Linked DNA regions of Homo sapiens: region 2 is linked to region 1. The links come from fine-mapping of genetic effects on gene expression. A gene starts in region 1. The other region holds a variant in brackets. All regions are shown on one strand. Distances are from middle to middle.

Region 1 (8,329 bases):
AAAAACATGTGTAACCCCTAATTCCAAGCCCATCCTCCACCAGCTGAAAGCACAAGCCAAACAGCCTCAGTTTTCTGACCATCAGAGAAAGAGTTCAGGGAAAATACAGCTATACTTAGCAGCATGAGGAAATCTAAGCTGCCAATGGAAAAAATACAATCTGAGGGCCACAAGTAAATAAATACAAACTTTTTTTCTTTTTTCTTTTTTTTAAAGACCCACTAGTTGGCCAGGCACGGTGGCTCACGCCTGTAATCCCAGCACTTTGGGAGGCCGAGGTGGGCCGACCACGAGGTCAAGAGATTGAGACCATCCTGGCCAACATGGTGAAACCCCGTTTCTACTAAAAATACAAAAATTAGCTGGGCATGGTGGCACATGCCTGTAGTCCCAGCTACTCGGGAGGCTGAGGCAGGAAAATCACTTGAACCTGGCAGGCGGAGGTTGCAGTGAGCCGAGATCATGCAACTGTACTCCAGCCTGGTGACAGAGCGAGACTTTGTCTCAAAAAAAAAAAAAATTAATTAATTAAAATAAATAAATGAATAAACACCCACTAGTTGAAATGACTCTCTTATCCTGATATGTTCTTTGTGGCCTCAAGAGGAGGGGGCAGGGAGGGGATTCTAGGCCTGGCAAAGTAAACCACTTCCCTTCTAAAGCTGAATATGGTATGATAACTACTCTTCAGAATAGTTAATGGGGGAGAAAAATAAACGAGACAGAAAGCCAGAGAGAGACAAACCCTCTCAGCAGAGAAAACAGGAACAATACTGATGCCAGGACTGCAAATTTCTAAGGAGAGCCAGCTCCTGATTCCTGCCTCATGCCTGAGAACTGCACACACTACATTATCCAAGGGGTCCTGGATGAACACCTAAACTGCAATGCAGCCCCACCCTGAAGCAAAGATTTCTCCCCTCAGAAGTGAAAGATGAGTCACCATAAATAGGACATTTGGTTAAATGATTTTTTTTTAATGGAACATCCTATTGTCTCTGTGGCAGAGGCTATAGAAAATTTCTGTGGTATCAAATACTAAAAATATGGTAGCAACGGGAGACTTGGCTGGATTACCAGCTGTCTTTATCCTGCACAAAGAGGAGCATTCATGATTTTCTGAAAGTTATAATTAAACTGTAGTTTAACAGAAACATTCAAACTTAAGAGTGTATCTGTCTAAATCACCTCTCTCTCTTTACACAAGAAACTTAACGGTGTCCTCTGGAGAACTGGATGGAGAGGAGAAAAGAAAAATGATCTTTATCTTTTTCATTTCATATCCCTTTGGTATTTAAATTTGTTCATGAAATACACATTTACTACTTCTATAATTTAAAGCAATCTAGGCTGGGTGTGGTGGCTCATGCCTATAATCCCAGCACTTTGGGAGACCAAGGCAGGCATATCACTTGAGGTCAGGAGTTCAAGACCAGCCTGTCCAACATGGTGACACCCTGTCTCTACTAAAAATACAAAACTTAGCCAGGCATAGTGGCGCACACTTGTAATCCCAGCTACTCAGGAGGCTGAGGCAGAAGAATCGCTTGAATTCGGGAAGTGGAGGTTGCAGTGAGCCTACTCCAGCCTGGGCGACAGAGTGAGTCTATCTCAAAAAAAAAAAAAAAAAAATTAAAGCAATTTAAATTGTTGGCATCTACCAGTATGTCTTGCCATCAGTTCCCCTGTTAACCTTCCTAGAGTCTAATTTTCTCATTTCTCCAGGCCCTGGAGAGGCTATGTGATGATGCAAGCTCTAAGACACAATCTCACCTTTCACAAGTTCACAAGTTTGAAAGGAAGATCTAGATCTTGCTCCTTGGGGGATGAATGCAGGGAGAGAAAGGTCGAGATGCCAGCAGTATTGGAAAAATCAAGTATTTTTCCAGCTTCATATTGCTGTAGAGAATATACTATTCGGGCTGGGTACAGTGGCTAACACCTGTAATTCCAACACCTTGGGAAGCCAAGCCAGGGGGATTGTTTGAGTCCAGGAGTTTGAAACCAGATTGGGCAGCATGGCGAGACCCTGTCTCTATAAAAATACAAAAAATTAGCCCTGCGTGGTGGCACTGCCTATAGTCGCAGCTTTTTCGGGAGGCTGAGGTGGGAGGATCACTTGAGCCGGGGAGGTGATCACACCATTGCACTCCAGCCAGGGCAACAGAGTGAGACCCTGGCTGAAAATAAATAAACAAATACAAAATAAAAATAGAGAATATACTACTAACCTGGGGGTCGGGGGAGGCTCTGGAGGATATATGCTGGAGAGTAGATGCATGCAAAGAAATACTATTTGGTGAGGTTTCAGGTCCAAGGGCACTTTACCAAATGGTGGAAGAGACCAGTCATTTGGGTTACTGGGGGGTAAAATCCAACTGTTTAGCACTTAGAACGGTGCCCCAAAAACTCTACATTAGTCCTCCAATAAGCGCCCTGTGGTGGACTCAGAGGTAACAAAAAGGGATTGGTTCCAAATGGCCTTATGCATTGAAATAACTCCCCAAATTTGTTTTTCACAAGGAAAATGTCTATGTAATTGGTGTTAAAATGGACCTTCTCCCCAATTCAATATGAAGACAATTCATTTATTCCAGCAGCTGAGTCTGCAGCAGGAATTAGTGACTTTCAGGATTTGTTAAAGACCAGAATCTGTCCCTCAGGGGAATTTGTAGAGTTTAAGATATCTAAAAAGGAAAGCTCAGCAAGCCATCTATCTAGGTTTCTTCAGGGCAGTATAACTCAAAGTAGAGGGGCCGGGTGACCTCCTGGAGCCTGTCTCTGGTTAGCTTTTTGCTGCTAACTGGGGATAACAGCCTAATGCCTCATGACGGCTCAGCATGGCTGGGTGAGTCCAACTGAGTCAGAGAGCACCAAAAATAAGCCACAAAGCATTGAGTAGTCATATTTATGGTTTTGATTCCAAACACACTTTGTGCTTATCCCTTCCAAGTGGAGAATTTTTATGTCATTTGTGTGCGTTAAGGCCAAAGGAGAAACCTGGAGGCAAAGGAATGCTGGTTGTGGGTCAACAAATATGCCTGATGGATTTTGTATGTTTGGCTTAAAAACACTGACTTAAAGTAAAATACTGTGACTACTTCTAACCTAGAAATGAGTTCAGCCCGCCAGACAGAAACTGCCATTCGGAGGAAATAAGGCCGTGAGCACCGGTTCCCTCCACACCCCCGAGGTTCACCTGGAGGCCAGTGGGCCAAGCGAAGCCTTGGGAGCGGAGAACTCAAAGAGGGGCGGGGAGAAAAGAATAAACACACCTCGCGGGGCTAGGCTGGCGGCGGCACAGTCCTGGTTTTTTTGATGGAACTGACCAAGATGACAGCAAGCAGAGGCTCAAATGCAGGATTCAGACCCAAGACTTCTCCCCGCTCTCAGGCGGACCCCAAAGGCGGGGAGCCAAAAACCGGGAGACTGAACAAGCAGCATTCTCACGCTCCTAAACTGGCTTCTCGCTCCTCGCTCCTCATGCCCCAAAACTGATCAGGCCCCAACCCCCCTCCCCACAACTCAGTGTTCCCTCCACACGGACCGTCGAGGCTCCCCCAGATCCCACGTCTTCGTCCTTCCTGGACCCCGTGCTCCATTCCTTACAGTCACAGACAGGGATTCGTTACCTGCAGAGCAGCTCGACAACCCTGCAGGTAGTCCTCCATGATGAAGCCCAAAGTACGCCGTCGCCCCTGGTCGAGTAGAGGTGCCCCTGGTCGAGGAGAGGTTTCCCCGACGAATGCAGCCCGCCCGGGACTCAGGGACTAGAGGCCAGAGTCAGGAGGCGGGACTCGAACCCGCCACACGGCGAATCGGCCTCCGACCCCGGGAGGAACTGCGTAAGCGGGCGCTCCGGAGTCCGGCGTCGCCCCGCCCCCAGCGGCGGAGGCGGGGCTCTACGCCCAGAGGCTCCTGGGACGTCTTTCCGGCGAGGCCAAGGGGGCGTGGCGTGGGGCGACGTGGGAAACGTAGTCCCGCAACTCCGCAATGTCCCTAGCAACCGAGGGAAGGATTGTTTTCTGAGGGATCAGTCGTTCGGTAAACAAATGTGTATGTGTCACAGTAACCCATTATTGTGGCATCTGAACTTTCCCTCTCAGATCAGGCCAAGTATAACATCTTTACATATATCACACCGAGCATCTGGTGACATTTTAAATGACACTTGGCAAAACAGATCATCTTCTTTCTACAAATTCTGCCCTTTACCAAACTGACTCAGTCGCCACCAATTTTGTGGTTGTTCATGTTAGGAGAACATTAGAATAATCTTTGACCCCTCTTGTTAACACCTACAGTCTCCTGCCAACTCCTGCTGCTTCTCCCTTTGCAACTCTGTAGCCTGTTTTTTTCTACAGCCTCGGCAAATATCTTCTTCCTTTCTTGGACGGTTGTAACCTTGGCTTTTTGCTCTCTGCCACCCTAATTGTTCCAATTGCTCTTTCAGCCTTTAGAGTTGCTTGAAATTTCATCCTGTGGCGGCCCTGTACATAGAGTTTAGGGAACCCTTCAGAATGTGGAGTTAGGTTCCAACCTCCCTTAACTGCCACTTTCCAGCCGCAGAGTAGTGCAGGTACTGCAAATAAATGGACACTCATCATCAAAAATTCCCTCATTTATTTATCTATCCCTTTATTTCCTACCGTCAGCCTCACACCAGCTTTTCCTGCTTCCCCAGCTGTAAATCGAGAGGAGGTGACTGATGAGAGGCCTGCAGTGGAACCAAGATCCAGAGCACAGGCGTGTTGGATCTCCTGCCTGCTCTGCCAGTTCTTTTCTTCTTCTTCTTCTTTTTGAGACGGAGTCTTGCTCCGTCTTCAGGCTGGAGTGCAGTGGCAGGATCTTGGCTCACTGCAACCTCCACCTCCCGGGTTCAAGCGATTCTCCTGCCTCAGCCTCCCGAGTAGCTGGGACTACAGGCATGTGCCACCATGCCCTGCTAATTTTTGTATTTTTAGTAGAGATGGGGTTTCACTATGTTGGCCAGGTTGGTCTTGATCTCTTGACCTTGTGATCCGCCCGCCTTGGCTTCCCAAAGTGCTGGGATTACAGGCGTCAGCCATCGCGCCCAGAGCCTGGGGCTTCTACCACACCCTCTGCACTCTACCAGGTGCACAACCCAACCAGTTTCATTTCTAGACTTAAAAATGATACAGCAAGGACTTGGAAAGGAGCTCTCTGGAGGGCTCCAGAGGGAAAAGAGCTGGGTTTGTTTGTTTGTTTTTAACATTAATTGAGTAATACATGCAAATATCGTGCTCTTTGCTCCTGCTTCTGTGGATCCAGAGCAAAGGACTGCCATACCCAGAGAGAGAGCCCAGATCCAACAAGCTGCTTCTGTCCAGCCCTTCTCCTCCCTACTTAGCAAGGGCACTTGCTCTTCCCTATTCTCACCAGAGAGGCACAAGCGCTCCGTCCCTTCTAGAGGCAGGCAGAGGGAAGAGAAAGGGTCTGTTGTTTTTCTCTCCTGTTTCTCGCTCCCTCTCTGCTGATCACAAAGCTGCTGACCGGGTCAGAAAGTCCTGATGGAAATCCACCAGCGCTGGGCAGGCCCCTCCTCCTCCAGGGAGCTTGTCCTTGCCTAATTTTTCTTCGTCCTGATGAGAACAAAAAAGAGAGAGAGAAGAAAAGAAAAACCACAAACTTCCTTTGAAAACCAGCTTGTAGTCAGGGCCCGGAGCGCATGCCATAGACTCGGCGACTCAGGAATCCTGAAGACTCTCTGAGCGACCTGGAGCACCTTGGCTGTGTCCCTGCCTGCCTTCACCCTCCTCCAGTGCCCCCAGTACTGGGCGTGAGTCCGGAAGTGGCCACAACCCAGCCTGGACCGTCGCTTATAAAGCTGTGTAAACCTGTATAAGCTCAGGCGTTGACAGCTGGAAGGCAGCTGGCACTGGCAGCCCCCTTCATTGCACCTATCTCCCCCATCTCATTGCCACGGCTGAACCCTCCTTCTCAATCTTGGAACAGCACCCCCTTCTTTAAGGTAAAAACTTTATTTTAATCATCTTCTTCACCTCTTCTCCCACCCTTCTCTATTTCCTCTCCAGCTTTGGGGAGCTGACACCTGCTGTCCTTCCACCTTTGGTCTGCAAGTCTGGATTGCTTAGAGGAGCTAAGTCAGGAGAGACATGTAAAGGGGATGCTGCTTGGTCCTCCTCCTTTTAATGAAAGCACGAAACCTTCCCCCTCTCCTTGTGAGCAAGTATACAGGGCACTGTGGCCATGGTTGACATATTCTGAGATGAAAATCTAAACTATTGATTGCACAAAGACATAGGTCAGACTAAGAAGGAGATTGGTGTGAGACAGTAAGGGAACTGTTCCTACAGAGAAGGAGTGTCTTCTTGAAGCTACATACCTGTTTTACGTGCTTCTTCCAACTTTCGGCTCTCTACTGCCATTGATTAGGGAGGAGCCAGGATTATTTTAACTCCCTCACTCACCACCATAATTCCAGCTGGAGAGAAAGTGTAGGATTTGACGAGCTAAGAAAGAGGAGGAAAAGAATGAAACTTTGATTTATCTGACTATCCTCTCCCTCATTCTTTCCTACTCTGAAATACTCCATGCCCTCCCCAGCAGGATTGGACGTTGTAGAGTAGAAAGCCTCCATTACATTTCCTGCCCCTGCCTCTTAAGACTTAGCCCATTTAGCTCTGCCCAGTTCCTCTGAGACCCCACTCCCTCAGGTGTCCACTCCTGGGTTCCTTTGGCTCACCTCTCCAGCCAGCTAGCTGCCCAACCCCCACTTCATCATTGATCATTTCTGGCACTGGAGAGAAAATATAAAAAATAAGGCCTGCTTTTCTTTTTTTTTTTTCTTTTTTTCTTTTTTTTTTTGGAGGCAAGAGTCTCACTCTTGTCACCCAGGCTGGAGTGCAGAGGCACAATCTTGGCTTACTGCAACCTCCACCTCCGGGGTTCAAGCAATTCTCCTGCCTCAGCCTCCTGAGTAGCTGGGATTACAGGTGCCCGCCACCGTGCCCGGCTAATTTTTGTATTTTTAGTAGAGATGGGGTTTCGCCATGTTAGCCAGGCCGATCTTGAGCTCCTGACCTCAGGTGATCCGCCCGCCTCGGCCTCTCAAAGTGCTGGGATACAGGTGTGAGGCACTGTGCCCGGCCAAGGCCTGCTTTTCTTCAAGCTTTTTCACTTTTCCAGGCTCTGGCATCTGCTTTGAGGTTCACCCTAAGTGTCATTTAAGGGGAGAAGGAAAGGAGAGAGAGAAAGAGAGAGAAAAAAAAGCATAAGGCCTGCAGGCAATTTTTGCTACTCTGATTCTAAATTAACAACACGTAAATGATATGCAGCTAGCATAAACATATGTGAATCAAGAGGATAATCAATTTGAGTGACTAGGCTTATTTTGTTTCAGTAACTTTAATGTTCCTCAACCTCATCTCCCAGGCCTTCCCCTAGCCCCAAATTCCTGTAGGTTTACAAGAAGGAAGCAGTCTCAGGCTGGGAGGAGGGTGGAGAAAAGACAAGATTTCTAACTAGTTTAATTTATTTTATTTTATTTTATTTTATTTTATTTTATTTTATTTTATTTTATTTTATTTTTGAGATGGAGTTTCGCTCTGTCACCCAGGCTGTAGTGCAGTGTCACCATCTCAGCTCACTGCAACCCCCTGCCTCCCAGGTTCAAGCAATTCTCCCACCTCAGCCTCCCGAGCAGCTGTGACTACAGGCACGTGCCAACACACCTGGCTAATTTTTGTACTTTCAATACAGACAGCGTTTTGCCATGTTAGCCAGGATGGTCTCGATCTCCTGACCTCAAGTAATCTGCCCGCCTCAGCCTCTCAAAGTGCTGGGATTACAGGCGTGAGCCACCGCGCCTGGCCCCTAACTAGTTTAATTTCTCCCTGTTTCTCTCCCTGATAAAGAGTGGGAGGGGAGCAAGGAGATTGAAGGGAGATGTTTTCCAAAGGGCAGGATTTGTGGTTTTTTATTATTTATACCCACAGTATTAGTTAAATGTCTATCTGTGCTTGCCTCAATGTGCCTCCAGTGCTGATAGAGAACAGGTTAAACAGGTCCGGTGTTCACATCTAAAATGACCTGGAGAGGACTGGGCACGGTGGCTCATGCCTGTAATCCCAGCACTTTGGGAGGCCAAGGTGGGAGGATCACCTGAGGTCGGAAGTTCAAGACCAGCCTGACCAACATGGAGAAACTCCATCTCTACTAAAAAATACAAAATTAGCTGGGCATGGTGTTGCATGCCTGTAATCCCAGCTACTCGGGAGGCTGAGGCAGGAGAATCACTTGAACCCAGGAGGCAGAGGTTGCAGTGAGCCGAGGTCGCACCATTGCA
Region 2 (8,329 bases), 27 kb before region 1:
ATTCAAATTCATGTCCACTGTCCAGCTGCTCCGAGTCTGAAGGTGTCTCCAATTCGTCTATCTCCAGGTCAGAACTGCCATCAGGAGAGGAAGGTGCAGACTGGGTGGGTGAAGCTCCATCATTTCCAGGCCCCTTAGTCAGACTCAGCCGCAACTCTGGGGCAGAAAGACGCTTGCGCATGGGGCGCTGGCCACACAGGGCTAAAGTGCTGGGGGTACCTGCAGCTGGAGAAAGGGGGAAAAAGAGAACCAAGATGGGTGTGTGTGTTGGAGAGCCGAGAGGGCTAGAATTCCTGTATGTGAAAGTGATAATATGGGGTGAATGCTGAAGAAGGACTCACGCAGGGGAGATTTGGGAAAAGGGGGAAATGGAACTGTAAAAGGATAGAGGTGGCATAGCCCTTTACTGGACTAGAATCAAGAACTTGAGGCCTGGTTTCTACTTGACCTACCTGCCTGTGAATCTCCTTTAGGGTCTTCAGGATCTTCAGAAGTGCCAGCCTCCTCAGGAAGCAATCTAGAGGGGAAGAGATTAAAAGGCGGCAGACATATACACCAAAGGCATCAAGCCAGGACTCAATATATAGGTTCTCTCTCCCCACCATGATTTTATCACCTATGCTGCTTTTTTTTTTAATTGTTTTTTTGAGACAGGGTCTCACTCTGTTGCCCAGGCTGGAATGCAGTGGCACAATCACAGCTCACTGCAGCCTCTACCTCCAGGGTTCAAGCGGTCCTCCCACCTCAGCCTCCCGAGTAGCTGGGCCTACAGGTGTGCACCACCACACTTGGCTAAATTTTGTATTTTTGTAGAGATGGGGTTATGCCATGTTGCCCAGAGTAGTCTTGAACTTCTGAGCTCAAGTGATCCACCTGCCTCGGCCTCCCAAAGTGCTGGGATTACAGGCATCAGCCACCACGCCCGGCCTCTGTTTTCTTTTTCCCATTTTTTTCCTTCAAGTCCTAATTCACCATCCCTGTGTCCATTTGCTTTTTTTTTTTTTTTTTTTTTTTTTTTTTGAGACAGAGTTTCACTCTTGTTGCCCAAGCTCGGGTGTAATGGCACAATCTCAGCTCACTACAACCTCTGCCTCCCAGGTTCAAGTGATTCTCCTGCCTCAGCCTCCCGAGTAGCTGGGATTACAGGCATGTGCCACCACACCTGGCTAATTTTGTATTTTTAGTAGAGACGGGATTTCACCGTGTTGGTCAGGCTGGTCTCAAACTCCTGACCTCAGGTGATCCACCCGCCTCGGCCACCCAAAGTGCTGGGATTACAGCCATGAGCCGCCGCGCCATCCCCTCCGTCCATTCGTGACCACCCCTCCCTTCTCCCAGCCACCCTCACACGTCCTCACCTAGGGAATTCTTCATCCTGCCATTCCTCCTTCAGCTCCAACTCCCCATGTCTCAGGGCTGCTCCTAGTTCTGGTGCTTCTGCAATCTCCCTGACCCTAAGACAGCCCCCAAGAAGAAAAGATCAAGGGAACTGAATAGTAGGTAAGAATAATTGAAATGAAGAACAGTAATTGAGATACAGAGCAGAGGATAGGCCTTCAAAAGGACTCAGATCTCTTGCCTCCTATACAGATGCTTCTCTTACCTTCACCACTTGCTAGAAGCAGATTACCTGCTGTTAAGTTTGGGAGCAGACGAAAGATGGAATGTAAAGTTAATCATATTTACCTCTGTAGCAGTTGCTCCACCTACAAAGTTGGGGTGAGAGATGTCCCACATTACAAGTGGCTGGAACCCAGCTAGACCCACCCAGCTATCATTGAGCAAAGTCGGGAAGACGGTACCTAGTTAGGCCTGCCTTTCCTCCACCGAGCTGGGGAGTGGCTAAGGGAAAACATGGCATAAGTGGAGGGGTGGAGGAAGAAGGTAAGGAGAAAGATTTGCCAGAACGAGAACCTGGACCTAAACTCGGTTCTGGTTCAGCTTTCCTGATGGCCATTCTGGAGGGTGAGGGTTAGAAAATAAAAGAACACAGGCAGATTTATCAGGTACAACATATTACAGAAACTTCCTTTATTTTTAAACCAGGGAATTATCCTGGAATCCTGTTCCCCAGTTCCATACCATACTGACATTTCCTACCTAAAACCACCCTCATCTCTTCTCTGCAAACTCTCTTACAGTCTTGTCTCCTTGAGGAACCCGAGATTTGACCCAGTAAGAGCTGGGTGGTGGGGAAGTCTCTCCGGACTGTTTATTCACTGTTACCAATCAAGTGAGCCAAGATCTTACTTACCCAACATCTGTCTTTTTTCCTGCCTCTTGTATAGTTCCCATCTTCACAAGTCTTCCTGCCTCCTTCTTTAAACACCTAGGAGTTGTTGGGGAGCTGGTTGTCCCAGCCCCCAACACTTCCTTACCTCTTTTCTGTCTCAGCTGTTGTAGCTCTTGCCTCCAAGGAGGGAGGTGTGGAAGGGAGGTAACCTCATCTTCAAAACAGGTTTTGCCACTCCTCTCCCCAGGAGCAGGTTTGCCCAAAAGAAAAACCCTGCCTCCTGTGAGGGGGCGGGTTTTGGGGAGGAGAGTGCATTTTCTAGTGGGGGCCAGTCTCGGTTGAGTCTAGGAAGGCAATTTGTTCTCCTTTCCAGACTCCATATATCCCTCTCAAAGTTGCTCTTTACACAAATAAGCAAAAAAACCAGTAGAAACCGTTGTGTTTCTGGCCGGGCGTGGTGGCTCACACCTGTAATCCCAACACTTTGGGAGGCCAAGGCAGGCGGATCACCTGAGGTCGGGAGTTTGAGACCAGCCTGACCAATGTGGAGAAACCCCATCTCTACTAAAAATCCAAAAAAAAAAAAAAAAAAAAAAAAAAAAAAAAATTATCTGGGCGTGGTGACACATGCCTATAATCCCAGCTACTTGGGAGGCTGAGGCAGGAGAATCGCTTGAACCTGGGAGGCAGAGGTTGTAGTGGGCTGAGATTGTGCCATTGCACTCCAGCCAGGGCAAAAAGAGCAAAACTCCATCTCAAAAAAAAAAAAAAAAAGAAAAAGAAACCATTGTGTGTGTTTCTAGGACTGTTATCTTGGATCTACTTTTCAAGCATAAGGAAAACTGGGGAAACGGAAGTATGTTATAAGGAGGTTTCTGGGAGAATAAACAAGTTGAACGGGAGGCTGAGGATGAGGGGAGACAGAAGCCTGTTGCTCCTTATTCCCAAAAAGAGTCAACAGAAAGAAGACATTAAGTATAGTAGGAAGAAGGGGGATCAATTTTGAGGAGACTGAAACAACTATCACAGAGAAAGGCCTGAATACACTTGTAAAAAAAGACAGTAAGACCCCCAAACAGGAAAAAATTATTTAATAGTATAACAAAATGCAAAATAAAGTACCCAAGTTACAAAACATAAATTCCTTTGGTTCATGATCACACCACTATTTTTACCTTCCACATAGCTACAGACATCACACCCTCAAAGTGAAGTCAAACTGTCCCCCTCATACTGAAGATGTCATGCCAAAACCATCACATACCCCACTGTTCAGTGAAACTGTTGGCAACTTACATGGAACAGAGCTGTGGGGTAGGAAAAAGGGGAAAGGGTTGCGTTAAAAAAAATGGGGAGACTCTACACATGCAGAACAAGTTAGTGGGAGGGAGTGCTCTGCTGGGTCAACACGCCATGAACCACACCCCTATTCGTGCTACATGAGGCTGAGTCCTTGCTACAACCACACAGAAATACAGACAATCAAGTGAACCTGAGCACCCCCAGGGATAACAGAAGAAAAATACAGAGAAGCAGAGGAGAGAAAGAATGGCAGCAAGAGGCAGATCACAGAATACCAGGGAACACCTAGTCCAAACCCTGTTTTACAGATGGGGAAAGTGAGACCTGGAGTAGTGAAGTGTCTTGCCAAAATACATAGTTTATGGGAGCATTAGAACTCCATGCTTCCTTTTAATGTGAGCAAGGAAAAAAAGAGATTGACAAGAAATTGATAGGCCTGCTAAGGCAGGAGACAGACCCAGGCCTCTCATTCCAGTTCTGTTGTCTTTTTGGAAGAGTGCCTATGAGGTCATTAAGGCCTTTCTGGGTGTTTTCTTGATTCTCAAGAGTCAGGGTTCTGGGTGGCTCTGGGACAGAGGGATCCAAAGAAACAGCCAGGCCACCTGATCAGGACAGAAGACAATGGCCTCTAATCTGTTCCCAAACTAGATCTGAAACAGTCACAATAAGCTAAGAATAGAAATTCAGCCATCTCTGAATCAAACACCATCACCTAAATGGTGGCAGAAAGAAAAGTCACCGAGCTGATAATCTGCTGTAGGCTGAAAACTGGAATAAATTTCCAAAGCGCACTCTCTTTTCTCTCTAGCTTGAGGCAGGTATTCAATAAATACTTGAATGAACAAGTGAATAAATGAATACATGGAGACCATCGATGAATGTTCAGTTCCATGACAGATACTGGTTCTGTTCAAGATCCATGCCGAGGACACTTTTGGGGTCTAAATTCTTTTTGTCCCACTGTGCTGGGACTGCAGATATGTCACATCGTGCCCCTGGCAAATAAAATAGAGAGAGGTGCAGATTTAAATAATAAAATGTGTCTGATTGGTAGAGATTAGGGGGAAAAGGTGGAAAACCATTCTTAAAGCAGCTGCTTTCTTTCACTTTTTTTCTCCTCTCAGTTTTATGAGAACAGTATACCAGATCCTGGAGCAATGAAGACAGAATTGCTGAATCTCCAAACATCTCAAAACATGCATTTGAAGTGAGTCAGGTAGCCTCACCCACTACCTCCTCGCCTCTCAACAGTCACTTCTTGGACAGGGAGGCTGTGGTAGACTGTGACAGTGAGATCTGACTGCACTTCTCGAAGACGGCCTCAGCAGAGAGTTTAGGCAGCCCCTGATCTAGAGGGCACTCATCCACCAAGCTGTTCATGGGCGTCGGGGGCAGCGGAGGGTCCTCCTCATCTTGACTCAG[G/T]CCAGAAATCAGGGAGTTACTTGCCCTGTCCAATTCCTTGTCCACTTGCTCCCTGGACACATCTGCTGTCTCAGGCTGTCCTGAAGGGATCTTCATGGAGTCAAAATATGCTGACAGGGCTTCCTGGAGCAGGGGCAGAAGTTTCTTTCGAGAGACCTGGGTGTTGCCTTGAAGATAGGCATGGAGGTTAGGGTGGGTACTTGAGGCAGGGGTCAGCTTCAGGGGTGGAGAGTGGGAGCGTTCCAGGACTTCACAGATCTAAAGAGGAGACAATAACAGGGAAATGATACACAACTTGCTGTAGCAAAGTGCTGGGCTTCTAAGTGAGAGGCTTCCTCTATAGAAGAGGAAGCTTTTAAAAAGTAAGTCGGCCGGGCGGGGTGCGGTGGCTCACGCTTGCAATCCCAGCACTTTGGGAGGCCGAGGCGGGTGGATCATGAGGTCAGGAGATTGAGACCATCCTGGCTAACACAGTGAAACCCCGTCTCTACTAAAAATACAAAAAATTAGCCGGGCATGGTGGCGGGTGCCTGTAGTCCCAGCTACTCGGGAGGCTGAGGCAGGAGAATGGCGTGAACCCAGGAGGCGGAGCTTGCAGTGAGCGGAGATCGCGCCACTGCACTCCAGCCTGGGCGACAGAGCAACACTGCATCTCAAAAAAAAAAAAAAAAAGTAAGTCAGCCGGGCGCGGTGGCTCACGCCTGTAATCCCAGCACTTTGGGAGGCTAAAGGGGGCCGATCACCTGAGGTCGGGAGTTTGAGACCAGCCTGACCATCATGGAGAAACCCCATCTCTACTAAAAATACAAAATTAGCCAGGCATGATGGCGCATGCCTGTAATCCCAGCTACTTGGGAGGCTGAGGCAGGAGAATCACTTGAACCCAGGAGACAGAAGTTGCAGTGAGCCAAGATGGTGCCACTGCACTCCAGCCTGGGCAACAAGAGCGAAACTCCGTCTCAAAAAAAAAAAAAAGTAAGTTATCCTTGAGGCCGGGCACAGTGGCTCACGCCTGTAATCCCAGCACTTTGGGAGGCCAAGGTGGGCGGATCACCTGAGGTCAGGAATTCGAGAACAGCCTTGTCAACATGCTGAAACCCCATCTCTACGAAAAATACAAAAATTAGCCAGACATGGTGGTTCACACCTGTAATCCCAGCTACTTGGGAGGCTGAGATAGGAGAATCATTTGAACCTGGGAGGCGGAGGTTGCAGTGAGCCGAGATCTCACCATTGCACTCCAGCCTGGGCAATAAAGCAAGACAAGAAAAAAAGTAAGTTGTCCAGAGTTCGGTTTTATTGTTTGCAACAGAAGGAACACTAATATACACAGTATTTTTTTTTTTTTTTGAGACAGAGTCTTGCTCTGTCGCCCAGGCTGGAGTGCAGTGGTGCAATCTCAGTTCAGTACAACCTCTGCCTCCCCGGTTCAAGTGAATCTCCTGCCTCAGCCTCCCATGTAGCTGGGACTACAGGCATGTGTCACCCAGCCTGGCTAATGTTTGTATTTTTAGTGGAGACGGGGTTACACCATGTTAGCCAGGCTGGTCTCGAACTCCTGCCCTCAGGTCATCCGCTCTCGCCTCGGCCTCCCAAAGTGCTAGGATTACAGGTGTGAGCCACCAAGCCTGGCCCACAGTATTTTATTTTAGTATTTTGTATTTTTTATTTAATAGACTAGGGATGGGGTCTTGCTATGTTGCCCAGGCTGGTCTCCAAATCCTGGTCTCAAGCAATCCTCCTGCTTCAGCCTCCGAAAGTGCTGGGATTCATACACAGTGTTTTATTTATTTTATTTTACTTTAATTTTTTTTTTTTTGAAATGGATTCTTGCTCTGTTACCCAGGCTGGAGTACAGTGGCACGATCTTAGCTCACTGCAACCTTCGCCTCCCAGATTCAAGCAATTCTCTTGCTTCAGCCTCCTGAGTAGCTGGGATTACAGGCACCTGCCATCATGCCCAGCTAATTTTTGTATTTTTAGTAGAGACGGGGTTTCGCCATATTGGCCAGGCTGGTCTCAAACTCCTGAGCTCAGGTGATCTGCCCAGCTCAGCCTCCCAAAGTTCTGGGATTACAGGCATGAGCTACCATACCCAGCCATACACAGTATTTTAAAAACAGAGGAAACAGTTTAGATTGTATATTTCATTTTATTATTAAAGTAACTAAAGCGAAGTAAGATGGTTGTGAGTAAAATCATGCAGATGATGGCAGTTAAACCAGAACCGAGGAACCCCAGCTTCTAATCTAGTGTCGTTTCCAAGTGTATAAATGTGCTCAAGAACTTGAACTAGGATGGAACTAGAATTTATCTAGAGGCCAGAAGAGGGATGGAGGAAGAAAGAATGAATTGAACAAAATAAGACTGGTATCACTATTACCCTCACTTACATGCAGGGAAACTGAGGCTTCAATGATCAGGTAACTTGCCTAAGGTCATAATTTGCATGAAGCAAAACTGACACTGAGCCCAGAGCTGTCACCAAAGCCAGTGTTCTAAATCAATATATTATACTACCCCTAACATAGGAGAAAGAGAGGAGATGGTAGAGTAGACTGTAAGAAAAGGACTCCTGGCTGGGCATAGTGGCCCACACCTGCAATTCCAGAACTCTGGGAAGCTGAGGCTGGTGGATCACTTGAGTCCAGGAGTTCGAGACCAGCCTGGGCAACATAGCGAGACTCTGTCCCTACAAAAAATACAAAAAAAATTAGCTAGCCATGGTGGTGTGCCTGTAGCCGCAGCTACTTGGGAGGCTGGGAGGATTGCTTGAACCCGGGAGGCAGAGGTTGCAGTGAGCTGAGATAGTGCCATTGTACCACTCCAGCCTGGTCAACAGAGTGAGACATCTCAAAAAAAAAAAAAAACACACACACACACACACAAAAACAAAACAGAGAGAGAAGGACTCCTGTTTCCAAGCATAGGGGCAACCTAGACAATGGTAGAGTCATTAGAAATCCACACAGCTTTAAAAGAGCAGCACAGAGGGGAGAAGATTCAGGAACGTGGAAGAGGTACTTCTAATGGCCAAAGCACCCTTTTCTTACTGACAGGATTAGTAAGAGCCACTATTTACAAAGTGCTTACTCTGCTCCAGGAGTGTGCTTTACACATGATATTACGTTTAATGATCATAGCAGAATTAGCAGTAGGTACTATTATGCCATTTCCAGATGCAGAAGTCAACTGACTTGCCTTAGCTCAAAGAGTGAGTAAGAGGCAAACCTAGAACAGAAAAGCACATCTACCTGACTTTAAAAACTGCAGTTCTTGGCCAGGTGCAGTGGCTCAGGCTTGTAATTCCAGCACTTCGGAAGGCCAAGGCAGGTGGATCACTTGAGGTCAGGAGTTCGAGACCTGCCTGGC

What was found. PIP is the estimated chance that this variant, and not a neighbour inherited with it, causes the effect.
Region 2: its variant is fine-mapped to the expression of PRUNE1 in whole blood (TOPMed, PIP above 0.99).

Annotation. Positions count from the first base shown.
Region 1 is chr1:151,003,975-151,012,303 of GRCh38, reverse strand. It overlaps PRUNE1 (prune exopolyphosphatase 1), which reads right to left and starts at 3,855. Exons shown (of 8, transcript NM_021222.3): 1 at 3,633-3,855. The coding sequence starts at 3,671. MINDY1 (MINDY lysine 48 deubiquitinase 1) reads left to right here and starts at 5,402. Exons shown (of 10, transcript NM_001376665.1): 1 at 5,402-5,992. RefSeq lists enhancers at 3,216-3,265, 2,921-3,461, 3,462-4,004, 5,497-5,676, 5,907-6,166.
Region 2 is chr1:151,030,692-151,039,020 of GRCh38, reverse strand. PRUNE1 (prune exopolyphosphatase 1) reads right to left here. Exons shown (of 8, transcript NM_021222.3): 8 at 3,308-5,215. The coding sequence ends at 4,787. It overlaps BNIPL (BCL2 interacting protein like), which reads right to left and starts at 2,435. Exons shown (of 10, transcript NM_138278.4): 1 at 2,255-2,435; 2 at 1,359-1,454; 3 at 453-517; 4 at 1-225. The coding sequence starts at 2,295. The variant G/T (reference allele first, on the strand shown) is at 4,958.